Homo sapiens: one gene and its partners. The protein of the gene in region 3 purifies or fractionates together with the protein of the main gene of each other region. This does not show direct contact. Each region holds a gene or a part of one and is shown on either strand. Other genes may lie near its edges.

Region 1 (7,024 bases), on a different chromosome or scaffold from region 3:
TTGTTACGGCAGTGCATTGTCATTCACTTCACATTCTCCCAGTGTTGAACATTTTGGTTCTTTTTTTTTTTTTTTTCCTCCTGAGACAGCATCTTGCTCTGTTGCCCAGACTAGAGTGCTGTGGTGCAGTCTTGGCTTCCTGCAGCCTCAACCTCCCAGGTTGAAGCAATCCTCCCACCTCAGCCTCCCAAGTGGCTGGGACTACAGGTGTGCCCCACCACGCCTGGCTAATTTTTGTATTTTTTGTAAAGGTGGGATTTCACCATGTTGCCCAGGCTGGTCTTGAACTCCTGAGCACAAGCAATCATCTGCCCGCCTCGGCCTCCCAGAGTGCTAGGATTACAGGCATGAGCCACCGCGCCTGGCCTCCCTTCGTATTATCACAAACCCTGAAAGGAATATTTTGTGTTTAAATCTTTCTGTGCCTTTCAGACTGTTTCCTTAAGCCAGAAATTAACTTTGGAAAGGCTCTTAAAGGTGCAATAACACTTTAAGTAGCAAGGTTGTATCAGCTTAAGAGTTCAAGGCTGCTTGTTTGATGAAATTGGATGTGTGCGTCTGTTCCCTGGGATCTCTATGTTTGGGTGCAGGGTGGATTGTGCAGCCCCTCAGCCTAAGACTTGGGGTCTATACTCTTCTTTTGTGCCTTGGTTTATGCTGATCAAGGCCTGCAAGTATGAGTCTAAAACCTGATCCTTGTGTTCTAAAAACCTCACAGGGGCAGATGCCATTGCCACAGGTCACTATGCAAGAACTTCCCTGGAAGATGAAGAAGTCTTTGAGCAGAAGCACGTTAAGAAGCCCGAAGGGCTTTTCAGAAATCGGTTTGAAGTTAGAAATGGTAAGTTCATGTGCCCAGGTCAGAGCCAAATTCTTGTGAACAGATTGAAATCTTTGGAGGAATGACAGTGGGTTGTGCCTGAGGATCACTGCCACCCCTCCCTCTGTGCTCCAGAGTAGCTTGTATGGGATTCACATTTGAAAAGGTGCAGTTACCAAGAGGACATTTTCCCGGAGGGCCTGTGATTGGGTAGTAAACAGTGTCCCTGCCGGCCATGGTGAGGGCTGGTGGAAAGTGACATCAGATACTGATAATCCAGCTCTCGACACTGTGTGGTGATTTGAATGTTCCAAAAATATCTGGGTAAATATTTGACAGTGATAATTGGGGTGCTGTCAGTCTAGCCAAGGACCTGTACTTAGCAACAAGTTCTCAAGGGCGTGCGGTTCAGGCAGACTTTCAACGTGCTGTGAGCACAGGACCTGCTGTGGATCGCATGGGCTCAGCAGTCAGGCTTTGTAGCCGTATTTACACGTTAGTTTATGCGTGTTAGGGAGCCAAGTTTCACCTTTCTAGAAAAAAGTCAATGGCAGACAGTGAGCTGGGAAGCTGCTGGCCTGTCCTGGTGTACATTCGTGTGTAGAAAAGAGGAATTCCCTGTATTGTTGAGTGAAAAACCAAGTGGGGCTCAGAGCCGTGTTTCCGCACGGAGCGTCCGTCCATCAGTGGGGACCCCTGAAGGGCAGCCTTGCTCTTTTGTCCGGAAGTTCAGATGTTGGAGGGAGCCTTGTCCCGCCATCTGGGGAATAGGGGTCTCTGGGGCTGGGGCAGGGCTTTACATACACACATTTCTTTTTTAATTATTATTATTAATTTTATTTTTTTGAGAGAGGATCTCACTCTGTCAACCGGGCTGGAGTACAGTGGCCCGATCTTGGCTCGCTGCAGCCTCCACCTCCTGGGCTCAAGTGATCCTCCCACCTCAGCCCCACCAAGTAGCTGGGACCACAGGTGTGCGCCACTATGCTCGGCTTTTTCATTTTTTGTAGAGATGAGGTCTCGTTAATGTTGTCCGTGCTGGTCTTGAATTCCTGGGCTCAAGCGATCCTCCCACCTCGGCCTCTCAAAGTGTTGGGATTACAGGTGTGAGCCACCAAGCCCGGCCTCACACGTTTCACATCACTCCTCTTAGCAGTCCATGAGGTGTATGCTCTCATCCCGTTTCACAGATGAGGAAACCGAGGCCCGGATGAAGCCATCTGACCTGGGTCCCTCGGGTGGCAGAGCTGGATTTCAGTGCACTTCCGCTCACTCCCCAGCCCCTGCTGCTTCTGCTGGGTCAGGCCCCAGCTGAGTTCTTTCCTCAGCGTTGCTGAGCCCATCCTGAAGGCTGCAGTGATGGGGCAGGGCCGTGCTTGGTCAAGGGAGCCCTGAGTGTGCCAACAGTCGTCTGCCGCCCTCTGTTCCCTCCTCGCCTTCCTTCCTTATGCCACAGGGTGATCAGGTAACTGTACTGACTTGAGCCCAGAGAAGAGCAGCCCACTCCCGTAAGACAGCCCCCCATTTCAGGAAGACATGGGTTTGAATGCAGATAAGACAGCCCCCCATTTCAGGAAGACATGGGTTGGAATGCAGAGTCCTGCCACTTGGGAACTCCAGGGTGGAATTCACCAAGTAATTGTGCATTTACGGGGCCTGAGGAGATGGAGGGTTAATTTCCATGTTGAATAGATGCGCCTGCTTACCTCCTAGAACATTACCTCCTAGAACACTGTGTGCCCTGCAGAGCCATCGACCTTTATTATAGGCCACGTGCCCTCGGAAACTTGGGACAGTACTGATGCGTTCTGTTGAGTGCGTTTGGCATGTGGGAATTGTGATGGTGCACAGTGTCTTGGCCTTCACTGGGTTTTGTAGGCACACTAAGGTTTCCATTTCATTCTTCTTCAGTTGCCCTGGCCCAGCCTGGGTCTCTGGGTAGAGCACCTGCAGGGGCAGTGGACGGCCTGGGCTCAGGGTCGGTCAGCACCTGAGACCAGCGCTCCTAGGCCTGGCCTGTGACTGGGCTGATTTTCCCCCACACAGCGTGCTACCACCGGCCTGGCAGAGCCAGCACGGCAGCCGGCGTGTCAGTGAGGCTCCAGCACAGGCAGCCTCCTCCAAATGTTGTTCATTCCTTTCTGTGCTTTTTCCTCTATAGCAGTTCAGTTAGGGTCGCCAGCTTGCTTTTTTGAAAATCATAGATTTTTAGTTTGTTTTAAAATGACGCAGAACTAGGAGAAAATGCAAATGGCTCCTAGTTTTCTGAGGCTTTTACACACATGCAGTGTTTGACTGCAGTTAGTTTGGGATTGAAAGTGGACTCTGAGGCCAGGTGCGGTGGCTCATGCCTGTAATCACAGCACTTTGGGAAGCCAAGGCAGGCGGATCATGAGGTCAGGAGTTCCAGACCAGCCTGGCCAACATGGTGAAACCCCATCTCTACTACAAATACAAAAAAAAAAGTTAGCCGAGTATGGTGGCACATGCCTGTAGTCCCAGGTACTCTGGAGGCTGAGACAGGAGAATCACTTGAACCCAGGAGGCGGAGATTGCCGTGAGCCGAGATGTGCCACTGCACTCCAGCCTGGGCGACAGAGCGAGACTCCATCTCAAAAAAAAAAAAAAAAGTGGACTCTGGAAAGTGCTCTGCTTCCGTGGCGACTGGTCGGCTGAACTTGGTCTCACTTGTCACTCAGTTCTGCTGTTTGTACCTGCCAAGTAAGGGAGGGGGACTCGGGAGGCTGGGCAGCCTCCAGCCCCACCGCCTCCACCTGCATCACTTTGGGCGAGTCATATGTGATGAACTGGGCCGGCTCCAGTCTCCCCTCTGTAACGTGGGGAGAATTCTCCCTCTCACGGCTAACGTGGGAATCGGCAGATGGAAAACACTAGCTACGCAGAGTGTGTACTGTACACGTGGCTCTGCCAAGCCAGGAAGGGTAGGTGTGCTGTCTGACCGTCACGGCATGTGGCGTGCTCTGAGTGTAACTCGAAAGGAGAAGTTTATGAGAAAGATTGAAAGAAGCCAGAAAACTGACGTTCGTCTTAGTTTTTTGCCATTGATCATTGAACTCGAGAGTGGAGAACTGGACGGTTCTAAGCCAGGTTTACTCACACCTCTGCTCCGTTGCCTTAAAGCCAGAAATGGTTCTTTACAATCACATAGGGAATGTCGGAGGAACTGCAGGGTCACCTAACAGATGTCAGCTGAGACTCTCAACAAAAAAACGTTTTTACCAAGAAAGCTAATGCCTTCACAGGTAGGGCGCTGCTGGAGGCATGTGCTGGCCGCCGGGCAGTGAACCTGGAAAGTGTAGAGTCCTTGAAACCACTGTGGCACGAACACATCCTGTGGTTGTTGGAAGAAGGCACAGCTGACACTATATCAGTGGAATTTTCTGCCAGCAACTAGCTTACTCCATTTTCCAAGATTTGGCTGAATTTATTTTAGGTGTTTTTTTTTTTTTTTCTTATCACTTGAGAACATTTTTTCATGTGATGTTTCATCTTTGAAAATATTATAATCTGAAGTATGAGCTGGAATAATTTCTTTGTCATGTAAAATCCTTGTTTTTTTTTTTGGAGGTGCGAATTTTTCTTACATTAACCCGTGGTGGTCTTTTCCCTAGTAGTTGCTATTGAGTGTTGATGTCTGCCTCTGACAGGCTAGGGGTAGTCTGTCTAAGTGAACAGAAGGACATTGTTGAAAGTGAAGTATCATTATTTTTATTCCTGCATCGTCTTTTGTTCTTTATTCTTGGCAGCGGTAAAACTCCTCCAGGCAGCTGACAGCTTTAAAGACCAGACCTTCTTTCTCAGCCAGGTTTCCCAGGATGCCCTGAGGAGAACCATCTTCCCTCTGGGGGGATTAACGAAAGAGTTTGTAAAGAAAATCGCTGCTGAGAATAGACTTCATCATGTGCTTCAGAAGAAAGAGGTACGAGTGAGCAGTTGCCTTTGATTAGTGCCTGTTTCCCTTTCCCGACTGCATGGCACGGAGCAGCTGGACCTGTGGGTCCCGCACCACTTCCCCTTCTCCAGGACCTAACATCAAAGGCGGGCCTTGGAGCAATAGATGGAGGAGTTTGCTGAGGCGCACGGTACAGGGCTCTGCTGACATCGGGAGCAGCCTATACGAGACTCCTTGCTTTTTTCCTCTCCTCTGCCCCTATGTGGTAGGCAGCTTTCCCCACAGCCTTAGCAGCTGGTGGGGTGCTCTTGGGATGGCCTGCCTGCCAGGTGAGTGCCAGGCAGTGTGATGCAGCCCCGAGACCCCTGGAGGGGCAGGTGCTGTGCCGCCGTCTGCACACTCATGTGCCCTGTCACCCGCTTGCCCGGCACAGACTCGTTCGGTGCCATCTGTTCGGGCGCTGTGCTGCTGGGCCGCGAGGAATTGGTGACGCGCACACAGTTCCATCTTCGCCTCCATGGAGCCCGCCCGCGAGTGGGGGACACAGGCAGGAGGCCAATCAGTGTAAACCTAGAAAATGTCTACGGAGGGAGGTGTAGGACCCTGGGTGGGAAGCACCAGTGGGGTCTGAGAGTAGGGAATGGAGATGCCAAAAACGGCCTCAAAAGAAGTCACATGGAACCTGAGACCTGAAGGAGGAGAGGATCCGGTGTCCCAGAGAGGGCTGGGAAAGTCCAGATGAGGGAACGGCAGTGCAAAGGCCTTGAGGCGAGGAGAAGCCAGGGAGCCGCTGTGGGGGTGCCTGCCTGTGGCCCCAGCTCCTCAGGAGGATCGAGCGCACCCAGGAGTTTGAGGACAGCCTGGGCAACACAGCGAAACTCGTCTCAAAAAGAGAGAACCCGGAGTGTTGGCGGAACTAGGATGAAGCCCGTGGGAGGGCCTTGGGGATGGAGGGCGAGGGCGCTGTGGGATGAGCCTCACCTCTTCAGGGGCCAGTGCGGTGGGAGCTGTTGCTCCTTCGTGTCTCTTCCTGGTAATGGAAACGGCCATACCTTTCATCAGAGCCATCTTCCCTGAAGAGCACGCCCACCGCCCGTCCTCCTCTCCTCTTGTTTTCCGTTTCCGGTGTCGCTCTGTGGTGGGAGCCGCAGGGATGGAAGGGCAGTCTTGAGAGACACAAACCAGAGTAAACGATGCAGCCCCTGATGGGGCCACGGTGGAGAGCGCACGCCACCCAGGCTCCCCAGCTAGGGCAGATGTGCTTGAGGAAGGCGCCTCTCTCCTCTGACTCCCCTGGAGCCCTCCCCTAAGGCCTTAGCTTCAGGCCTGGCTTTCCTGCTACCTGCCCCTTCTCTGGTCCCTGTCTCTCCCCCACTCCTCGCAGGACAGTGGCCTGAAGGACCTGACCGGGTTCTGCTTTCTTCCCCGGGGCAGCTGGTGTGAGGGTCTCCCGCGCAGGGTCAGACCCCGCGGGCCGAGACAATGAGGCGTTCTCTAAGGCTCTGGCATCGTGTGCGCCGGCTGTGACTGGCGGCCGAGGGTGCCGGTGGGCAGCCGGGCCCCTACCCTGGAAGCAAAGTGTGGGGTGAGGCCGGGAGGCCCCAGGGCCCGCTCAGGACGTCTGGGTACAGCTTGGGCCACCGCCACTTCTGCTCCTCTCACGGCTGCCGTCTTCTCATTTCAGAGCATGGGCATGTGTTTCATCGGGAAGAGGAATTTTGAACATTTCCTTCTTCAGGTGCGTGCTGCTCTTTGACACAAAGAGATGGGGCTGCGTGTCTGCCCTGGGCCTAGATCTCCGTCGGTAATGACATGTTTGTTTTCCAGTATCTGCAGCCTCGACCTGGTCACTTTATTTCCATAGAAGACAATAAGGTTCTGGGAACACATAAAGGTGAGGTGCAGACTCTGCCACTTGTCATCTGAAATGCCTAGAGCTGTGGCGTTTCAGCTCTGGGAGACTAGACCAGAGTTCCTGTCGTCCCTTCCACTTGGCTGGAGAATTGTAGAAGGCTCTGTGGGGCGGCCGGGGGCGGGCACGGCCTAGGGTGGAACAGTTGCCTTGATGGTGGCTGGGTGCACTTCCAGATGTGGCCTCAGCTGAGATGCTGGAGTTCATGAAAAGCGCGCCTCTGACTTGGAAGGACTATACTCTGTGAGTTACGTATCAAGTCCCTGTAAAAAGAATGATTTCCTTCCTGTGTAAGGAAAATGTTAAACTACACAAAACTCCACTCTGATTCAGGGAGTAAGGTGGACGTCCCGGCATGGTGTGAATGATTAAGGACCAC
Region 2 (7,024 bases), on a different chromosome or scaffold from region 3:
CCATCCTGGCTAACACGGTGAAACCGTCTCTACTAAAAAATACAAAGAAAAAAAATTAGCCGGGCATGATGGCGGGTGCCTGTAGTCCCAGCTACTTGGGAGGCTGAGGCAGGAGAATGGCGTGAACCCGGGAGGCGGAGCTTGCAGTGAACCGAGTTCGCGCCACTGCACTCCAGCGTGGGTGACAGAGCAAGACTGTCCTAAAAAAAAAAAAAAAATGCAAAAGCCAATGGTAGACCTGCTTACATTTGCAATCCCAGAACCTAAATGCAAAGATTATAATTTAATTTTCTTTATTACTTCCTTACAGAGCCCTAGAGTAGAAAGATAAACTAGGAAAAACACAGCAGCTCTAAGATACTGCACAGTTACTGGGTTGTAGTCACAAAACAAAATTGTTCTCTTCTCCCAAAAATGTGAGTAGAGACTAAATGGAGCCTGTCATTTATCTAGAATGATGTCAGACTCTCCAAAATCACTTACCAATAAGAGAGCAACTTAATAATCTCAATAAAGGCCTCATATTTTTTATTTCAGCTTAATGACTTTGTTGGTGACCTTTCCTGTTTCTTTATTTTTTTCTCTTACCTGTAAAATTGAGAAAACAACAGAAGCCTGCTTTGCAGAGAAATTTTGAGAAGTAACTATAATAGAACATTGAGATCCATGAGTGAAAAGTATGATAAAATGACAATGAATGAGATCTTTCACATCCCATTCAAACTCTTCTTGACTCCAGCCAGGGCAGGAGGGCTGTGTCATTCACTTTCTTATCCTATACCACGATATCCACCCACATTCCTTCTCACAGGCATTTGAGTGTCATTTGTTTAGATTTCAGAAGTGTGTGTTGATTGTTTCTAGACAACTCGAGAGATGATCGCTCGTTCTGCTGCTACCCTCATCACACATCCCTTCCATGGTATGTTTGCAGTTGACAACTGACCTTTCTTTTATAACCTGATCTCTCCTGACCACTTAGATAGGTTGACGTGGGAGTTGACTAAAATGCCTTGCCTGCATGTTTTTGTTTGCTTGCTTGTTTTGGCTTTTATCCAATTTATCCAGATAGCAAAATGTCTTTAGGTGGAAAATCTTTTTTTTTCCCAGGGCTATCAAAATCTATCTTAACATAGTTTTTTTTTGTTTGTTTGTTTTTTGTTTTTGAGACGGAGTTTCACTCTTGTTGCCCAGGCTGGAGTGCAATGGCACAATCTTGGCTCACTGCAACCTCAGCCTTCCGGGTTCAAGCAGTACTCCTGTCTCAGCCTCCTAAGGAGCTGGGATTACAGGTGCATGCCACCACGCCTGGATAATTTTTGTATTTTTAGTAGAGATGGGGCTTCATCATATTGGTCAGGCTAGTCTTGAACTCCTGACCTCAGGTGATCCGCCCACCTCGGCCTCTCAAAGTGCTGGGATTACAGGTGTGAGCCACCGCACCTGGCCTTAACATAGTTGTAAACATCTTTTCTCTATATTCCACAGTGATCACTCTGAGATCTATGGTACAGTTCATTGGCAGAGAATCCAAGTACTGGTAAGTATTTTTGTTTTCACATACTCAAGGAGATCTTTTGAAGCCAAAGTACTAGAATAATACTACTTTGTATTTTTATGATACCCTTACAATTTGTAGAACAAATTCGTATCTGATGTCATTTGATCTGCACAAAAAACAATAAAATGGGAGAAAATATACCCAGGCAGGTTTAGTAGCCTACGTAGGATTTCAGAGTAAGTTGCAGAGCCCCTGACTCCATATGACTATACCCCTAGGTAGTTAATATTTTCACTTCTATCTCCAAATTTAGCTATCTTTGCAGAGTGAGAGAGTGCTAGAAAAGTGTGAGGGAAGGAGGTCGTGGATTTGACCTTGTCCAATGTGATAATTGAAATTATTTTGTTTATAGCTCCAAAAGAATCTTAATATATTTTACCTTTTCTTCTTGTGTACGTAGTGGACTTTGTGATTCCATAATAACCATCTATCGGGAAGAGGGCATTCTAGGATTTTTCGCGTGAGTAAATGTTGATTAGTGTGTAATTTTTGCATGAGTGGGAAACGTTTTCTGAAAGTAAGAATAGTGAGTCTTTGTTTAATCCTTGGGGAAAACGTACTCCCTGGGCTTACCTCACGTTACATTCTATTTAGGCCCCTTATTTTTTTTTCTTTTTTCTCTGCAGAAAGGCATATTTAGGCCCCATATGACTAGAATTATCTTGTAAAGATCCCAAACCTTTACTTCTAGATACTTAAAACATTTGAGGCCGGGCGTGGTGGCTCACGCCTGTAATCCCAGCACTTTGAGAGGCCAAGGCGGTTGGATCACCTGAGGTCAGGAGTTCAAGACCAGCCTGGCCAACATGGTAAAACCCCACCTCTAGGTGTGGTGGTGTGTGCCTGTAATCCCAGCTACTCGGGAGGCTGAGGCAGGAGAATTGCATGAACCCGGGAGGTGGAAGTTGCAGTGAGCTGAGATTGCACCACTGTACTCCAGCCCGGGTGACAGAGTGAGACTCCGTCTCAAAAAAATAATAATAATTAATAAATAAATAAGGAATTTCTTTTTTTAACAAAGGACTTAATTCCAAGTTTCTACCCTTGTAGTAAACTCCCAATTCTATATAGATAATAAAATGAGAAAAATTAAATGTTGAAAAATGGGGAAATCATCTTAACTTGTATTTTCCTTACCGTAAAAGAGTAAGTTTTTGCAAGGCTTGAATTTACTTTGGAAGAACTTAGACTACTACCCTCATTCTTCTATGAGGAAAAATTTTGCATCATTACCGAAATGGTGTTTTTTGTTTTTTTTTTTTTAATTTTCAGAGTATCTCCCCATACGGATTTTGAATATCATAAATACCCTGTGAGATAGGCAGGACAGCTATAATTAGTATCACTTTAGAGATTAAAAAACATTGATGCTCTGAGAGTTTCATCTGCTGCCTGTCACATCGCTGCTGAGTGCTGGAGCTGGCATTTGAAGCTGGTCTTCAATCCGTGGGGAAATGCTCTTCCCACTATTCCATGCTGCCTCACCTAGGTCACCCAGACCCTAGAAATGTGGTTTTTGATGCCTCTCATCTGTATCTGTACTTGGGACCATTCTTGCTTTGTAATTTTTCTCGTCTTTTGCTCTGCCAAATATGAATATCAGATAGCTTAGCAAAATCATTTTTTTAAGCTAGTCAAAGCAAAACAATATTTAAGTCTCTTCTGCAAAGCACCTCGCAAATCTTTTGCCTCCCTGCTTACAGTTATGAATAGTAAGGTGAGCCACTGAGGGTATAGCCGACCTGCATTTTAAACATAGGAACAAAAGTCACTGGAGATCAGCTTCAAGTACAGCTGTGTTAACGAGAATGAACTAGGTATGCGGGCTGGATTCTGGTGTTTGATTCCTTTTTTACTTCCCTAGAATGTTTTGTGACCTCTAATTATTTGACAAACATTTGTACTGAAGAGCCTGTCATGTTACTGATCACATTTTTTGGTTCTTATTTTTATTGTTTCTTCATGTAGGGGTCTTGTTCCTCGCCTTCTAGGTGACATCCTTTCTTTGTGGCTGTGTAACTCACTGGCCTACCTCGTCAATACCTATGCACTGGACAGTGGGGTAGGTTGTGACCTTCGTGAGATGTGCTCACCTTGGCTTTAATCTGGCAGCTAGATTAGCTTTTAAAGTAAGATGGGCCGGGCGAGGTGGCTCACACCTGTAATCCCAGCACTTTGGGAGGCCAATGTGGGCGGATCACCTGAGATCAAGAGTTCGAGACCAGCCTGGCCAACATGGTGAAACCTCGTCTCTACTAAAAATACAGAAAAAATTAGCTGGGCGTGGTGGTGCGTGCCTATAGTCCCAGCTACTTGGGAGGCTGAGGCAGGGGAATTGCTTGAACCCAGGAGGCGGAGGTTGCAGTGAGCCAAGATCGCGCCACTGCATTCCAGCCTGGGTGACAGAAGGAGACTCCATTTCAAAAAATAAATAATAAATAAATAAACAAGATGACAGTTTGCTACATGCCAGACTGAACAATTATATAGCTAAAAATTATCAGTCAAATTTTCAAATGCTAATGAAATGAGCATACTGTTCACTGTAGAACGATACTGTTTACTGTAGAACGATACACGTTAAAAGTCCGTAAGATGTGACAGAGTATACCCAAGAGACTTAGCCCTGTGTTACTTCAGGGCTTTAAAGAGATCACTTCTTTACTGATACTTAACTTGAGAGAACCTGGGAAAGCAGGACATCTTTATGGTGTATCGGGGGCTTTTCATCTAATCTGGACTTAAGAGGGTGCCTGTATTGGGCTTTCTAGAAACCTCAGCCTTTTGAGAATCAGTCTTATCTAGAAGTTGTCTTTCTTATCTCAGCAGTTGTGGGGCCTCTTGTATGTCGGCAGCTCCATAGCATGATGATAAATTGAACACATCACAGGGTATATGACTAAATCCATGTTGTAAACCTCTTGAGTACAGAGAGGGATTTTCTTCAACGCATCTGGTAGAAAGCTAGCTGTGTAAAACAAAGGTAGTGAATTGTCCCTTAGATATACTATAAATGTGGTTTTCCAGGGACTGTATTTCTAGGATGTGTGAAAAGGTTATCAATCTCATTTTCTTTAGTATTTGAAATCCTTTTACATTCGTCCCTAAAGCATTTTAGTATAATATGAATTTGTCTGTTAATATTGAATCAGGTTGATCATTTTGACCACTGCCTTATTATTCTAATAATCAGTGTTTTATGGTTTTGTCCTCAAAATTAGTTTTAGACAGGTGTGGTGGCTCATGCTGTAATCCCAACACTTTGGGAGGCTGAAGTGGGAGGGTCACTTGAGCCCAGGAGGTCAAGGTTGTGAGATCACAGCTCACTGCACCTCCAGCCTGGGCAACAAGAGAGATGAGATCCTGTCTCAAAAAAAAAAAAAAAATTAATTTTCAAGCTGTCAAACTGATAATTTAGAGATAGACTATATTGACATGGAGAGCAAGGCACAGTAGCTCCAGCCTATGATTCCAGCGACTCAGGAGGCTTAGGTGGGAGGTTTGCCTGAAGCCAGGAGTTTGAAACCAGCCTAGGCAACATAGCAAGACACCGTCTCTTAGCTGGGCATAGTGGCTTATGCCTATAATCTCAGCACTTTGAGAGGTCAAGGTGGGAGGATCTCTTGAGCCCAGGAGTTTGAGACCAGCCTGGGCAAACATAGGGAGACCCTTATCTCAAAAAAAAAAAGACACCATTTCTTAAAAAATATTTTGAAATTAGCTGGGCGTGGTGATGTGTGCTTCAGGAGGTCACTGCACTTCAGCCTGGGTGACAGAGTGAGGCACTGTCTGAAAGAAAAAAAGAAAAGAAAAGAAAAGGAAAAAAGAATATATTGATGTGTTGTAGTGTTGTAGGTAATTAATTTAAGGCTCTTTTCCTATTTTAGGTTTCTACCATGAATGAAATGAAGAGTTATTCTCAAGCTGTCACAGGAGTGAGTTTTTTAAAATCCTTTTAACCTTCTAGGAATAGTTGTGTTTTGTTTTGTTTTCCTTTTAAATCTGGCTTGTGTCATCACTGCTTTAAGATAACCAGATGTCTCACTGGGACATCTCCCTGAAATTTGTTATATTTGTCAAAGGTAAGAATAACTCAGTTTTCGGCCAGGCGCCATGGCTCATGCCTGTAATCCTAGCACTTTGGGAAGGTGAGGTGGGCGGATCACCTGAGGTCAGGAGTTCGAGACCAGCCTGGCCAACATGATGAATCCCCGTCTCTACTAAAAATACTAACATTAGCCGAGCGTGGTGGTGCATGCCTGTAATCCCAGCTACTCGGGAGGCTGAGGCAGGAGAATCACTGGAACCTGGGAGATGGAGGCTGCAGTGAGCTGAGATCACGCCACTGCACTTCGGCCTGGGCGACAGAGTGAGACTCCATCTCAAAAAAAAAGAGAGAATAACTCAGTTTTCGAAGGAACCACAGACTCACATGTGAAAATAAAGAGAGTAAGGCAGAACCCCTGCCTCACATCCTGCATGGTTTGGTACTGCTTAGCTTTCATAAGGGGCGTGCCTTTCCTCCGAAATAATATTGTTCAGGCCAGACATGGTGGCTCACACCTGTAAACCCAGCACTTCGGGAGGCCAAGGAAGGAGGATCACTTGAGGCCAAGAGTTCAAGACCAGCCTGGGCAACTGAGCAAGACCCCATTTCTACAAAAGTGAAAAAAAAAAAAAAAAGCTGGGGCAGGCGCGGTGGCTCACTCCTGTAATCCCAGCACTTTGGGAGGCTGAGGTCGGGAGTTCGACACCACCTTGGCCAATTTGGAGAAATCTCATCTCTACTAAAACTACAAAATTAGCTGGGCATGGTGGTGCATGCCCGTAATCCCAGCTACTTGGGAGGCTGAGGCAGGAGAATCGCTTGAACCCCAGGAGGCGGAGGTTGCAGGAGAATCGCTTGAACCCAGGAGGCGGAGGTTGCAGTGAGCCAATATCACACCATTACACTCCAGCGTGGGCAACAAGAGGGAAACTCCATCTCAAAAAAAAAAAAAGTAGTTGGGTATGGTGGCGTGCGCCTATAGTCCCAGCTACTCAGGATCAGAGAATTCTTCTGGCCTTTTGTTAAAATGTTGGATGCAGTGGTGTGCTAAGAGGAAGAAGCATCTCCAGGCTCAAAACTGTAACTGTTGTCTTTCCAGGGTACCGATGAAGCGAGACAAGTGTTAGAGTGTCTCACCGCAGTGGCACTAGGCCTTTAAGGTAAAGGAAAGGAGAATAAAGACTAGGAATGATCTAATAACAGCTGCCTTGTTTCCATTTTACAGTTTTTTGCGAGTATGTTGACCTATCCCTTTGTGCTTGTCTCCAATCTTATGGCTGTCAACAACTGTGGGTAAGCACTTTGTATTTCTTATTCTAGTAGGTGGTTGACTGTATGCTGACAGGCGGAGCAGCCTTGTAGAAATTTAGGAAAGATGAATGATCAGTATCAATCTCTGATTGGTATTTTTTTAA
Region 3 (7,281 bases):
CACTTGCCAGGATTTTACATCCCTGTTTTTCTATCTGGGACAGTCACTCTAGAAAAATGTCTACATGGCTATCCCAGGAGTGTTTTAGCCTGAGTTTTCATAGATGGAACAACTGAAGAAACAGAAGTTGTTTGGTCTGGAAGAAAGCAAGCTTGGTGAAAGATGGGCAGGGGAGAGACGGAAATGCTGATCTCAGAGAAACTAGAGTTGCTGTGTGACACTGGAAAGCAGGTCAAGGACCAATGGACCCATTCAGATTAATAAGGAAGATTTCTCTAACAGCTACTCAAAGAAAAAATTCTGTGTGTGTTGAGGGAAGGGTGGGTAGCAAGGCTCCTTGGAGGTGGTCAGTACCCAATTACAAAAAGCATTCAAGTAAGCACAGACTAGCAAACACTTAGCTGGGATCTATCAAAAGGGTTCCTTTTGTAAGCTGTGGCCTAGAAGACTTTTATTTTAGAGTCTTATTTTAGAGACAGGGTCTTGCTATATTGTCCAGGCTGGTCTTGGAACTCCTGGGCTCAAGCAATCCTCCTGCCTCAGCCTCCCTAGTAGCTGGGACTACAGGCATGTACCACCATGCCCAGCTTACATGACTTCTGAGATCATTTCTAGCCCTGAGTCTAAATGGTCTCCTCGATTCTCAACAGCCCTCCTTGGTCACCTATACCTCCACCGGGGGAAGAGGGCAGAGTGGAAGATCGTAGAACAGACCAGAAGTCTGGCACAGTGCTGTGCTCACAGCGGGCACCAAACAAGCATTTGGCAGTGGTGGTAATGCTGCCTGCAGCCTGGCCCTGCACAGAAAGGTGTTCTGGACTTGCCTCTGCAGATGAATACCCGGAGGAGTATCTGGATCCCAGCTCCCCATCACTAGGAGAAGAGGAAAACAGTCAGTTCCGGGAGGTACCTGTGGTGCACAGCTGTAAATCATCAGGCGGAGAGCATGCAAGGGCATCTGGAAGACTTTTGAAGCAAAGGCCACACACAACAGAACTCAAGTCCGAACAGGCCTTGAATAATACTGGTTCCCTCAATTGGTTCTGGCAGGGACAGGGTCACTCTCACTAACAATGCAAACATAACAGGGCAGGATGATCCCCCGGACATTGGTGCTCCGAATTCTAGAGCAGCACGATTACCTATGAGTCTTCTAACCAAGCCATCCTGGGAAGGGATATTGTTCAGAAGAGAACGGCCCTGGAATGTACATGAAGGGCCTTGGAGGAGACAGGGAACAAGCAAAGGCATCAGGCGATCTTCAGTCCCAGCCAAGTTGCTTCCCAAGGGGGTATTTCCAAGGGGAGCACTCACCTGTCAGAGTCGAGGGACACCAGGTTTTCATCTGGACTCTGGCTAAGAGCAGTATAGCCCTTGTTAAACTTCACTGACCTGAGGGGAGACGGGGGAGAAGAGACCAAACATAGATGAAAGCATAGGCATTTCACAGGGATAGGCAGAGTCCTCGCCCTGAAGGAGAAAGAATTGACTGCACTACTGACTTGCCTTCTCCCTGGTCACAGCCACCACTGCCTGCAGCTCCATGTACCTGGCTACAGTGCCTCAGAATGTGTATGTTCTCATTCTTTTTTTCTTTTTTTGGAGACAGAGTCTGGCCCTGTCACCCAGGCTGCAGTGCAGTGGCGCGATCTCGGCTCACTGCAATCTCCGCCTACCATGCTCAAGTGATTTTCCTGCCTCAGCCTCTTGAGTAGCTGGGACTACAGGCGTGCCCAGCTAATTTTGTATTTTTAATAGAGACGGGCTTTCACCATGTTGGCCAGGCTGGTCTCGAACTCCTGACTTCAAGTGATCCACCCGCCTCGGCTTCCCAAAGTGCTGGAATTACAGTCGTGAGCCACCACGCCCGGCCTGTATTCTACTCCTCCCATAGGTCTTGGAAAAAAGCACACCTCCCCTTGCCTGATCTAGGAAAAGCACCCTCTCCCCACTTATTTAATCAGAGGACACAAAAACTGCAAGTCTTTGGGTAAAAGGTTAGGGTTAACCTTCACTTCTCCGAGTTTCAACCCTCATCTGTAAAAGGAGGCACTGAATAAGGTTCTATGCAGCTCCGAGTTTACTATTCTGTTAAAAACAAACAAACAAAAACAGGTCTAGCCATTCCCACACTGCTCTTCGTCCTCATTGCTGGGGACTCCAGCCACCATTCTCCTCCCTAACAGAGGAGGAGAATGATAGTGAATGAGCCTGTGCACTCACAGAACTCCCTTATTCCGAAGCCCTTTATCTGATCCTATCACATCCTTAAAGGAAAAGAGAGATTGTTCCTCTTCCCATTTTAAAGATAGTGAACCTGACAGGTTGCATCAGGGGAATCGCTAGCTCGGCCTTAAACCAGAGCACCCTGCCTCCGTCCTGGGGATTAAAGCCTTCTCTAAAGCTGCTGGCACAGAGGAGGTGGCGCCTGCTGAGACCTTTTCCCTGAAGAGTCTGGGCGGTTCGGCGAGGCCCCCAGCATGCCTTTTCTCCGCAGAACGGCCTTGGCCAGGTCCCGGTGCTTCTCTGGAAGTTAAAGGACCCGGGTCAGCCGGGTCTTCCCCACTCCGCCGCGTCTCCCGAAGGCTGGGAGGCCGCTCTTTCCGAACGGATTTTGAGGGGCGAGAGCAGGCTGCAGCTAACCCCTTCCCTCCGGGGCCGAGGCCCAGCGGAGCTCCGGAACCCGCCCTGGGGACGCGGCCGCCCGCCCAGGGAGAAACCTCCCCCGACCATCGGGCCACACTCACGCAGCTTGGCTTGAATGGAGGGTGCGCGCGTCACCATGTATGGCCCCCGCTTTTCCACGGCCGCGGGGGTGCGCTCCCCCAGACGGAGGGCTCTATTACCGATCTGCCCGGAGGGTGGCCCCGCAGCTCCCGGCGCGCGGTCCCGAGCCCCGCTGGGCCGGGGTCCCGGGGTAGACAACCGCAACGCGCGCCCGCTGGGCTCCGCGGTCGCCATGGCCGGGCCCCGCCCTGCCGGATGGTGCAACCCCGCCCGTGGCGAAAGAGTGACCGGCCGAGGGAGAGGCGGGCTCTTTTAACAAGATGGCGGTGCGCAGGCGCAGGTAGTCCCCTTTCGGAGCTCTCCGGTTCGGTAGTCTGAGGACTTGGCCGAAATGTTCCGCCCTTCTTTTCGGGGGGACCGGGCAGTTCCGTTCTCGGTTTTGGGGTAGGCGGCTTGAGCCTGGTGATGGTTAGGCTTAGTTCTGTCTCTAGTGGAAATTAAATACTGATACTGTCGTGGGGCTGCGCGTGTGCGTCGGTCGGGTGCCCACGGTTTGAGTCCTGGCGCGCCGCACTCTGTGCTTCTCGCAGTGTCTCCTTGGGGGTCTCCCCACATGTGGGGCTGCCAGAGAGCAGACTTGGGTTGAAGAGTCATATGAGGACAAGCGTTATCAGCGACCTTTTCTAGCAAAAGAAACAGGCCCCAGAAGTTAAAGAACCTTGTGAAGGTGACACATCTAGAGGCAGTGCTTGCGCTGATCCATCTGACGCCAAACCCCACCTTCTTTCCAACACCAATTGGTGCCTGTGACATTGGACAGGACCTGACCCTCTCTAGGCCTCAGTTTCCACATTTAAAAATAGAGCCAATGTCACTACTCATTGTACAGTGAGGCAAATAGGCGTTGAAAAGGAGGGTGAAAGTGCACTCTGAGTCTGTGTGTGGTAGGCTATGTGTCAGGGCTCTTGACTTCTCTAGCCCCCAAGGGATGTGCTTGTGACTGGCTGGAAAGAAACTCCAGATCCTTGTAGAACTCCCAAATCTCATGAGGCTGTCCCTTGACTAACTTACTGGCTTCAATAGGGTAGGTCAACAGTGTGCAACCTCCGAGCTCCCAGGGCCACGCAGACCGTTGGGTGGCACTATGCCTTGGGCAAGAGAGGTGAAAAGGAAGAATTTAGGGCTGAAGTTTTCAAAAATCAAAAGCACAAAGGAATCCTTACCATTTTGGTAGATTCCCCCCACTCCCCATGATGTTAGACTGTTTTTGCCTCCAGAAACAGCAGGTTCATATAGCTCAACTTAGTATTTAATGGTTATAACCTCCCAATGAAGCCAATAGTTATTCTTGTTAAACAAATGAAGCTTAGACTTGGTCAAGTTTACCAGTTAAGTGATAAACCTGGAATTTGTACCCAGTTGCCTGTGGACTCCAAAGAAGTAGTTTTCTGGCCGGGCACAGTGGCTCACATCTGTAATCCCAGCACTTTGGGAGGCTGAGGCAGGCGGATCACCCGAGGTAGGGAGTTCAAGACCAGCTTGGCCAACATGGTGAAACCCCATCTCTACTGAAAATACAAAATTAGCCGGGCGTGGTGGCGGGTGCCTATAATCCTAGCTATTCAGGGGCTGAGGCAGGAGAATCGCTTGAACCCAGGAGGCGGAGGTTGCAGTGAGCCGAGATCAGGCCACTGCACTCCAGCCTAGGCAACAGAGCAAGACGCTGTCTCAAAAACAACCAACCAACCACCCCCCAGCCAAAAAAAAAAAAAAAAAAAACCAACAAAAAAACAACGAAGTGGTTTTCTCCTGGTTATGCTGATGTGGACATCACCAAGGGCCAAAGAAAATGTGATTTAAACCAGCAGTCTCCAGCCTTTTTGGCACTAGGGGTTGGTTTTGTGGAAGACAGTTTTTCCACGGGGTGGAAATGCGGGGGCTGGTTTTGGGATGATTCAAGCACATTTATTGTGCACTTTATTATTACATTACAATATATAATGAAATAATTATACAACTCAACTTAGAATCAGTAGGAGCCCCAAGCTTGTTTTCCTGCAACTAGACGGTCCCATCTGGGTGTGATGGGAGACAATGACAGATCATCAGGCATTAGATTCTCATAAGGAGCCCACAACCTAGATCCCTTGCATGTGTGGTTCACAATAGGGTTCATGCTGCTATATGACTCTAATGCCACGGCTTATCTGACAGGAGGCGGACGGAGCTCAGGTGGTAATGTGAGCAATGGGGAGCCACTGTAAATACAGATGAAGCTTTGCTCACTCATGGACCAGTATCCATCCATGGCCTGGGGCTTGGGAACCCCGACCTAAACCCACTTAATGTCACAAGATCACTAGGAACTTGTAGCAAAAGTGTGACAGCCTTCATGCACACTCCTCCCAATCTTCCATCAATAATGCTGTTAACTGCTGACTGATTGAACATAGACCCTGAAGCCAAATTATTTGCTCTGTTACCTACTGGCAAATTATTAAACCTCTTTATGTCTCAGTTTCTTTAGCTAAGTGGAGATAAGAAAACCCATCTAATGGAAGTGGAATTGTGAAGTTCAGTTGTAAAGTGTTTAGAATGACACCTGGCAAATAGTAAGTGTTCAAGAAATATATGCTATTATTTACACAACCCTTATACAGCATTACAAGGATTTAGTGTTTATTCTCTCATTTGACTTTACACTCCCCAAGGGCAGACCTTATTCACTTTTTAGCATAAGGTTATAGTAATAAGTATTTGTTGAATTAATATCCTATTTCCCCTCTTTTAGTTAACTAGTATCATAGAACTTTGGGGCTGGAAGAGATCTTTTTTTTTTTTTTTTTTTTTGAGACAGAGTCTTGCTCTGTCGCCCAGGCTGGAGTGCAGTGGCGCGATCTTGGCTCACTGCATGCCCTACCTCCCAGGTTCACACCGTTCTCCTGCTTCAGCCTCCTGAGTAGCTGGGACTACATGCGCCCGCCACCACACCTGGCTAATTTTTTTTTGTATTTTTAGTAGAGACGGGGTCTCACCATATTAGCCAGGATGGTCTCAATCTCCTGACCTCGTGATCCGCCCTCCTCGGCCTCCCAAAGTGCTGGGATTACAGGTGTGAGCCACCGCACCCGGCCTGGAAGAGCTCTTAGAGATTATATAAAGTCATTATTAATGAAGAAATTGTGGTCTTGTGATAGTTGTACTCAATGATCCTGGCCTGGATGTGGGAAGTTCCCTTTTCCACTTAAGAAATTATGTTCACTAGGGCTCACGCCTGTCATCCCAGCACTTTGAGAGGCCAAGACAAGTGGATCGCTTGAGGCCAGGAGTTCAAGAGCAGCCTGGGCAACATGGCAAAGCCCCGTCTCCACAAAAAAAATAGAAAAAGTAGCTGGGCATGGTGGTGTGTGCCTGTGGTCTCAGCTACTTGGGAGTCTGAGGTGGTAGGATCACCTGAGCCCAGGCAGTTGAGGCTGACTGACAGGAGGTGGAGCTGCAGTGAGCTGCGATCGCACCACTGCACTCCAGCTTAGATGACAATGAGACCCTGTCTCAAAAAATAAATAACTTACAATTCAAAAAAAAAAAATTATGTTCACTAGGAACCTAAGACAAATAAATACCCACCCCACCACCAAAAATACCCCCAACCAACTCTAGGTTGCAAGGGGATGAGTCTCCAGAGCAAGAATTGCCACAGCAGAAAGGGCACAAAGCCCCTCTTCCTTGCTCCTACTACTCAGACCTTAACCCAGTGCTTGTGCTGCCTGCCTTGCTGGGCCTGGGGCTTCTCAATTTAGCATAGCTTTATTCATCTCCTACTGTGTCACAGGTGCTATGCTGGGTCCTGCAAACCTAATGATGACAAATAAGGTATCTCCCAGTTCCCAGTCTTATTTCTTTGTTATTGGGGGGTAGTGAATCCTCGGGGAGAGATTATTGGCTGTTAGGAGCAAGGACTACTACCCTGGCTTTTGGAACCCTCATTGGGCAGTTACTCTTTATCCCTGGCTCTAAATCTAAGTTATTCCCTAAACTTTCTTGGTCCTGGGACAGATACATCTCCATCATCAGTTGAGAATTCTGGTTCTGCTGTTGACTGGAGCTGAATTCCTTCATACAGGCAAGTATCTGGGGTTAAACATTAAAAGGGATGGAGGACAGAGATTTTTTTTTTTTATCCTGCTACTTCCCTTTCAAGCTCTCTTCCATCTCAGAAGCCACTGTCTCACCAGGTTGTGGCCTCTAGCCCAAGGAACTTCTCTCATTATTGGTAGAGTACAGATAACTAGATAGGACCTATGAATCTGCAGGTCTTTCTGGGTTCCCAGGTTACCAGACCCACCATTGTCCTCACAGTTATATGCAAAGGTATGGCCACAGCTGTGGCGGGCTGCTGTGGCTTGTCTCCACCAAACCCCATGTTTAAATTTGATCCCCAGTGTTGGAGGTGGGGCCTAATAGGAGGTATCTGGGTCATGGGGGTGGATCCCTCACGAATACATTAATGCTCTCTCTGAAGGTGGTAAGTTCTTATTCTATAAGTTCCTGAGA
Region 4 (7,024 bases), on a different chromosome or scaffold from region 3:
GCGGATCACCTGAGGTCAGGAGTTCGAGACCAGCCTGGCCAACATGGTAAAACCCCGTTTCTACTAAAAATACAAAAATTAGCCAGGTGCAGTGGCAGGCGCTTGTAATCGCAGCTACTTGGGAGGCTGAGGCAGGAGAATTGCTTGAACCTGGGAGGCAGAGGTTGCAGTGAGCCGAGACTGTACCATTGCACACCAGCCTGGGCAACAAGAGTGAAACTCTGTCGCCAAAAAAAAAAAATAATGGTGATGGCTACACAATGTTATAAATATTAATGCCAATATTGTAAATATTAGTGCCACTGAATTGTACACTTTTAAATGGTTAAAGTGGCAAATTTTGTTTATATATATATTATTTTTACTGCAATAAAAGTTTTTAGTGTGATATAAATAAAACAATTTTCTAAATTAAAAAATGAGATTTATTTTTATATTGTAAATATTTTTATATTATAAATGCTTAGTTTTTAATGTTTTACTAATATCTTAATCAACCTATATACTTGGGGCATTTAATTTTTAACAGTAATGGATAGAAGCTTATACTTCAAGTAGTAGCAGTAGTCTTGATGATTTAAAAGAATTTTTTTTTGGCTGATGTTGTCAGATATAATAGATTGTTTTTAACCTGTGGCTGCTGAGGAGCTCACTAAGAACAGAAGCTGGCTAGGCGTGGTGGCTCGCACCTGTAATCCTAGGACTTGTCTGAGGTTGGTGGATCCCTTGAGGCCAGGAGTTCAAGACCAGCCTGACCAACATACCGAAACCCTGTCTCTACCAAAAATACAAAAATTAGCCAGGCGTGGTGGCTCACACCGGTAGTCCCAGCTACTCAGGAGGCTGAGGCAGGAGAATCACTTAAGCCAAGGAGGCGGAGGTTGCAGTGAGCTGAATCATGCCACTGTACTCCAGCCTGGGCGACAGAGTAAGACTCTGTCTCAAAAAAAAAAAAAAAAAAGTTTATTTTCTGACATTTTTATGTTTATTTGCACTTGTGTTAATAGAAGTATTTTCTTAATTTTTTAAGTTACCTTCCCATATTGTGAAGATTTGTTTATGTAAATTTAATGCTACCTGTATTCAACTACCTGTACATCTCACCTGCATAACTCTCATTTCAAACCTGTAATTGTTTTAGTAAAAAAAATGTTATTTATAGAAGTTTACTTTGCTGTTACAAGAAGATTTATTTTTCAGGTGCACGAGAAACAGACTACCCTGCAGGAGAAGATCTTTCAGAATCTGGTCAGGTAGACAAAGCATCTTTATGTGGAAGTATGACAAGCAACAGCTCAGCAGAGACAGACAGCCTGTTAGGAGGCATCACAGTGGTTGGTTGTTCTGCAGAAGGTGTGACGGGAGCTGCCACTTCCCCTAGTACAAATGGTGCTTCTCCAGTGATGGATAAACCACCAGGTATATCCATTCTCTTTACCTGCCATCTGTATAGAGTCTAAGGCTACACTCAGATGCCTCATTATGGACTTAATTTAGATCTTAAGTAACAAGGTTGAAAGAACTTGAAAGAAGATACTGTAGGCCGGGCGTGGTGGCTCACGCCTGTAATCCCAGCACTCTGGGAGGCCAAGGCGGGTGGATCACGAGGTCAGGAGATCAAGACCATCCTGGCTAACACAGTGAAACCCTGTCTGTACTAAAAAGTACAAAAAATTAACCGGGCGTGGTGGCGGGTGCCTGTAGTCCCAGCTACTCGGGAGGCTGAGGCAGGAGAATGGCGTGAACCTGGGAGGTGGAGCTTGCAGTGAGCCAAGATCACGCCGCCGCACTCCAGCCTGGGCAACAGAGCAAGACTCTGTCTCAAAAAAAAAAAAAATGCTGTAATGACTGTTAAATGGAATGAAGAATTCTTAATTTCATGGTACAGTGTGAAGGAGTGGGTAGATGGAATGGAATTCTATAACAGGGGTTTGTGTGGGGAAATAATTGGAGGAGAAAAGCCCAGACTTGGAATAGTGTTTTATTTACTTTGTAGAAATGGAAGCAGAAAATAGTGAGGTTGATGAAAATGTTCCAACAGCAGAAGAAGCAACTGAAGCTACAGAAGGGAATGCGGGGTCAGCTGAAGACACAGTGGACATCTCCCAAACTGGCGTCTACACAGAGCATGTCTTTACAGATCCTTTGGGAGTTCAGATCCCAGAAGACCTCTCCCCAGTGTATCAGTCGAGGTATAATAATGGGTCATCAACTTAGGCAACTGGGTGAAGTGCACAAATAAAAGGAACCAAAATAATCTCAAACAGTCAAAAGATTTCCACTAATTAGTGTCACTGTGGTGGATTAAAAGATACCTATTCTTGTGATAATTTCATGTATTCCCGCTCCATCATTCTCGCTGGATATTCCCCCCCATTTCTTCTGTACACCTTCCAATTTAAAAAAAAAATCTTATCTATAAAAGTATAATCATGCATCAGTCAACAATGGGGATATGTTCTGAGAAATGTGTCATTAGGTGATTTCATCATTGTGTGAACATCATAGAGTGCATTTACACAAATCTAGATGGTATGGCTTATCACACACCTAGGCCATATGGTATAGCCCATTGCTCCTAGGCTAGAAACCTGTACAGCATGTTACTGTACTGAATACTGTAGATAATTGGAACATAACGGTAAGTATTTGTGTATGTAAACATGCACAAGGTACTGTAGAAATATAGTAGTATAATCTTGTGGAACCACCACCATATATTCTGTCCATCATTTTCCAAAATGGTTTTACCAGGTGTGTGACTATATATTAGTCAAAATCTTTCTGTTCATTTTCTCCTCTGATCTGTTTTTTTTTCTTTTTTTTTGTACTTACTGTCTTCCATTCTATAAGTAATTCTTTGTCATTTTAATCCCACCCCTACTCTAATTTTCACTCCAGTTATCAGCAAAATTGGCCATTGTTTAAATCTGCCATTGTACAAGTTTCCCACATGGGTGTGGATGACCTTTTTGAATTTAGTTTTCATGCAAATATTTTATTAAAAAACAACTCAGATAGTTCCAGTGGCTCATGCCTATAATCCCAGCACTTTGGGAGTCTGAGCAGGAGGATTGCTTGAGTCCAGGAGTTCAAGACCAACCTGAGCAACATAGTGAGACCCTCATCTCTACAAAAAACTTAATGATTCGCTGGGCGTGGTAGCGTGCACCTATGGTCCCAGCTACTCAGGAGGCTGAGGTGGGAGGATTGCTTGAGCCCTGGGAGCTGGAGGCTACAGTGGGCCATGATATCACCACTGCACTGCCGCCTGGGAAACAGAACAAGACTCTGTCTCAGAAAACAAACAAACCAAAGAAAACTGTTTGTTTTAGGCTCCTCCGTTAAAGGGTTGGTTAATCTAGGCCCATTTAGTGAATTATTTTATTTTCTTTCCTGCCTTTTCTAGATCCCCTCTAGATGAGAGTCTCTTTAAACTAGATCCTTTTTAAAGTTTAATATTCTTAGTGTATAAAGTAAGAAAGATTAATTAATAACCCATTTATGCCTAGTGGTCCATTATTGGAATGCTAAGCTTGTGGGAGTTATTCATATCCTACTGCTCAAGGTCATCGCTAAGGTCTGATTTTTTACAAAAAAAATTTGCAACCTCCGGCATAAATGGGTTAATATTTAATTCTTTTTTTTTTTTGGAGATGGAATCTCACCCTGTCACCCAGGCTGGAGTGCAGCAGTGCAATCTCAGCTCACTGCAACCTCCGCCTTCCAGGTTCAAGCGATTCTCCTGCCTCAGCCTCCCAGGTAGCTGGGATTGAAGGCATGTGCTGCCACACCCAGCTAATTTTTGTATTTTTAGTAGAGATGGGGTTTTATCATGTTGGCTAGGCTGGTCTTGAACTCCTGGCCTCAAGAAATCCACCCACCTCACCCTCCCAAAGTGCTGGGATTATAGGCGTGAGCCACCGCACCTGGCCTGAATTATTAATTTAAGAATAAGTCATGTTTGAATTTGATAGCCTGGTTATATATCTTTTACTAAATATGCCCTGACAATTCAAAGGAAAGGTTTTGTGATAGAATATTAAACATATTTCAGTTTATTAATTTATTTTAGGTCATTCTTTATATTTCTCCCTACTATTTGTATGTGTGTATCCCTCCCTTCTCTCTCACTTGAGAAGAAACTATGACAAAACCCAAAATAAGAGACAGCCATAGTAATTGTCTGAATATTAACTGCTGTATTTCATTACCATGTCTTATTATCTTTTCTGCTCCTTGGGCTTCCTAGTTTGTTAATGTTATTTCTGGTACAATTGTTGAAATATGTGATGTAAGCTTTTGACTTTGGCTTTTCTGGAATTTTGGTGGTTTCTTTTTTTTTTTTTGACTAAAAGTTGAAGCCAGGTGTGATAGTGTGTGTGCCTCTAGTCCCTGTTATTCAGGAGGCTGAAGTGGAAAGATCACTTGAGCCTGAGAGGTCAAGGCTGCAGTGAGCCCTGATTGTGCCACTGTACTCCAGCCTGGGTGACAGAGTGATACCCTATCTCTAAAAAATAAATAAATAATAAACAAATGAACAAACTTAAATATAGAAGGATTCAGTCCCTGAAAACTATAACGATAGTTAAGTATACTCAGATTTCTTTCCTTTTGCCCTCCCTTTCCAGCAATGACTCAGATGCATATAAAGATCAAATATCAGTACTGCCAAATGAACAAGACTTGGTGAGAGAAGAAGCCCAGAAAATGAGTAGTCTTTTACCAACTATGTGGCTTGGAGCTCAAAATGGCTGGTAGGTGTCAATGCTTTTAACATTAGAATATGTTGTTTTACTTTTGCTTTTGAAATCAGAAGATAAGTAAAATATGGTAAACAAATACAAAAAGTGTGGATTAATGCAAAGAATTTTATATATACACACAATTTGATGTTATGTTGCAACTACCACATAAACTGGACTTGCACTGGTTCTGAATAGTAAGCCATATGTTTCTTTGTCACAGAATGTTCCCTTTCTATAATATTCTTGGAAGAAGAGGTATGTAAAATTTTAAAATCGAGGTGCTCCAGAAATAGAAGATCCTGAACAGCACAAAGACAGAGAATATTTAATTTATGTAGGCTAGAATGTGGGCAGGAAAACAGGGATTAAACCAACATTTTGGCTGCAGGAAGGCCCAATCCCAACTTTTAGTGAATTTTTTACTAAGATAGGTAAAACAAATCACAATCTGCAAAGTCAGATGATGATGACTAATATTATATGGTTTGTTCACTTTCCGGTTGTGTGGAGAGTTTTACAAAATTGTGCATTTACAAAGGTTAAGCAAGATTACTGTTGAGCATCTCTAATCCAAAATTTAAAACTCTTTGACCACTGTTATGATGCTGGCAGGTAATGCTCATTGGAGCATTTTGGATTTTTGAATTAGGAATACTCAACTGTTATGTATGATGTAAACATTCTAAAATCTGAAAAAGTCAGAAATCCCAAGCATTTCAAATAAGGGTTACTCAACCTGTAGTATGTCTTTTTCATATGAGTCCAATACTATAAAGTGAAGAGTTGGCAAACTTAGTGTAACTCTCTTCCAGTAGAGCATTATGGGCATTGTAGTTTGAATTTCATATAAATCTCCCCTGTCGTAAAATACCCTTGATTTCCCCCCCACACACACTTTTAAAAATGTAAAAAGTATTCTTAGCTTGCAGGCTGGATTAAAACAGGTGGCAGACTGGATCTGGCCTGTAGGCCATAGTTTGCCACTCCCTATGTGGGCCACTCTGTCATCCAAAAGTTATAGATCAGTGTAGTAGAGAGGTAAGGCAATTCAAAAAAAGAGTTTTGCCCAAGGACTAAGTGTGTGAACCTGACTGTGCATTGCACTAGTTCTTGCTTTTCAGTCTTCATATGTTTTTCTTTGCTCAGCAGCCTATTTCTTTACCTTAGGCCTACCCTCACTCTCATTTTTCTTTTCTGACCATTGCACAAAAGCAGCAGCACCTTTTCCTAAAATTTGTATGTTACTCTTCTTTCCTTCTGAATGAACTTCGCGATCATTGTTAGATATATGCAATGTCTTGATGTTCTCTATGCCTTACCAGTGTTGACTTTGTTCTTACAGTTTGTATGTCCATTCATCTGTAGCCCAGTGGAGGAAATGTCTCCATTCCATTAAACTTAAAGATTCGATTCTCAGTATTGTGTAAGTTTTATTTTGGAAATTCTTCTTGTTAAAACTATGCATTTTGGTATAAACTAGATTTTAAGACTTTGAAAGCTAATACATGTTTCACGACTAAATTAGTATCCAATTTGTTTGTTTTTTTAACCCTTTTTATGGAACTAGAGAAGTTAAGTGAGAATGAAACTGTATAATAGAAAACGAAGTAGAAAGGATAACTTGCTTGATTGAGTCCTCACCATACTGCGATTTATTTAGCACTGCAGGAAATAACCAATACCTATTAAGTTATGTTTATTTTAGAATATTCTTTATGGCTTGTAAATATGTTGATTGGGGCATTGATTACTAGTTCTTTTCTATGTGTTCACTGTAAAAAAATCAGACAGTTTATCTCTGAGCCTACAGGGCTGACTCTGTTGGTTCCACTCAAGGTGCATGTCTCTGGTCTTTAGAGTTTGTGTTGATTGTCTGTGATGAGAGGAGAACCTTGGGCCAGAAAGTGAAATAACTGAGATACCATTCATACTGTTTATTTAGTTCAGCTGACATTTTTTCATAGCAGGACATCCACAGTGAAGAAAGTGGTGTGTTCATTTATATTCAGGTGTCAGCTCCTTAACTCATCACAGATTGGCCCTTTGTGAGGCCTTGAACTAGTTCAGTAGCATGTGGTCCCTTCTGTATTCCTGAATGGAGAGTTCTGAACTCCCCTTTCCTGTTTGCAGACACGTGAAGGGAATCGTGTTAGTAGCCCTGGCTGACGGCACCCTTGCAATCTTTCACAGAGGAGTGGGTGAGTGGTGATGTGTGTATAACATGGACACTAATTTGTTGCTTTGCAAAGCATTTTTAAGTAGATTGGTTTATGTTT

Evidence for each region.
Region 1: the proteins of FAM219B (region 3) and TRMU purify together in Homo sapiens (affinity purification with mass spectrometry; 3 studies listed by BioGRID and IntAct, with this or other methods). This does not show direct contact.
Region 2: the proteins of FAM219B (region 3) and MTCH2 purify together in Homo sapiens (affinity purification with mass spectrometry; 3 studies listed by BioGRID and IntAct, with this or other methods). This does not show direct contact.
Region 4: the proteins of FAM219B (region 3) and SPAG9 purify together in Homo sapiens (affinity purification with mass spectrometry; 3 studies listed by BioGRID and IntAct, with this or other methods). This does not show direct contact.

Annotation. Positions count from the first base shown.
Region 1 is NC_000022.11:46,345,704-46,352,727, forward strand, and holds part of TRMU (mitochondrial tRNA-specific 2-thiouridylase 1), read left to right. Parts: intron 1-718; coding exon 719-841; intron 842-4,587; coding exon 4,588-4,760; intron 4,761-6,417; coding exon 6,418-6,471; intron 6,472-6,560; coding exon 6,561-6,627; intron 6,628-7,024. UniProt on the Homo sapiens protein: Catalyzes the 2-thiolation of uridine at the wobble position (U34) of mitochondrial tRNA(Lys), tRNA(Glu) and tRNA(Gln).
Region 2 is NC_000011.10:47,625,552-47,632,575, reverse strand, and holds part of MTCH2 (mitochondrial carrier homolog 2), read left to right. Parts: intron 1-864; coding exon 865-922; intron 923-1,488; coding exon 1,489-1,540; intron 1,541-1,961; coding exon 1,962-2,021; intron 2,022-3,529; coding exon 3,530-3,623; intron 3,624-5,448; coding exon 5,449-5,496; intron 5,497-6,834; coding exon 6,835-6,902; intron 6,903-7,024. UniProt on the Homo sapiens protein: Protein insertase that mediates insertion of transmembrane proteins into the mitochondrial outer membrane. Catalyzes insertion of proteins with alpha-helical transmembrane regions, such as signal-anchored, tail-anchored and multi-pass membrane proteins.
Region 3 is NC_000015.10:74,903,840-74,911,120, forward strand, and holds the start of FAM219B (protein FAM219B), read right to left. Parts: upstream 3,013-7,281; 5' UTR 2,962-3,012; coding exon 2,748-2,961; intron 2,527-2,747; coding exon 2,439-2,526; intron 1,393-2,438; coding exon 1,315-1,392; intron 1,221-1,314; exon of another isoform or gene 1,143-1,220; intron 874-1,142; coding exon 825-873; intron 1-824.
Region 4 is NC_000017.11:50,984,845-50,991,868, reverse strand, and holds part of SPAG9 (C-Jun-amino-terminal kinase-interacting protein 4), read left to right. Parts: intron 1-1,200; coding exon 1,201-1,419; intron 1,420-1,996; coding exon 1,997-2,192; intron 2,193-4,631; coding exon 4,632-4,757; intron 4,758-6,090; coding exon 6,091-6,171; intron 6,172-6,878; coding exon 6,879-6,946; intron 6,947-7,024. UniProt on the Homo sapiens protein: The JNK-interacting protein (JIP) group of scaffold proteins selectively mediates JNK signaling by aggregating specific components of the MAPK cascade to form a functional JNK signaling module.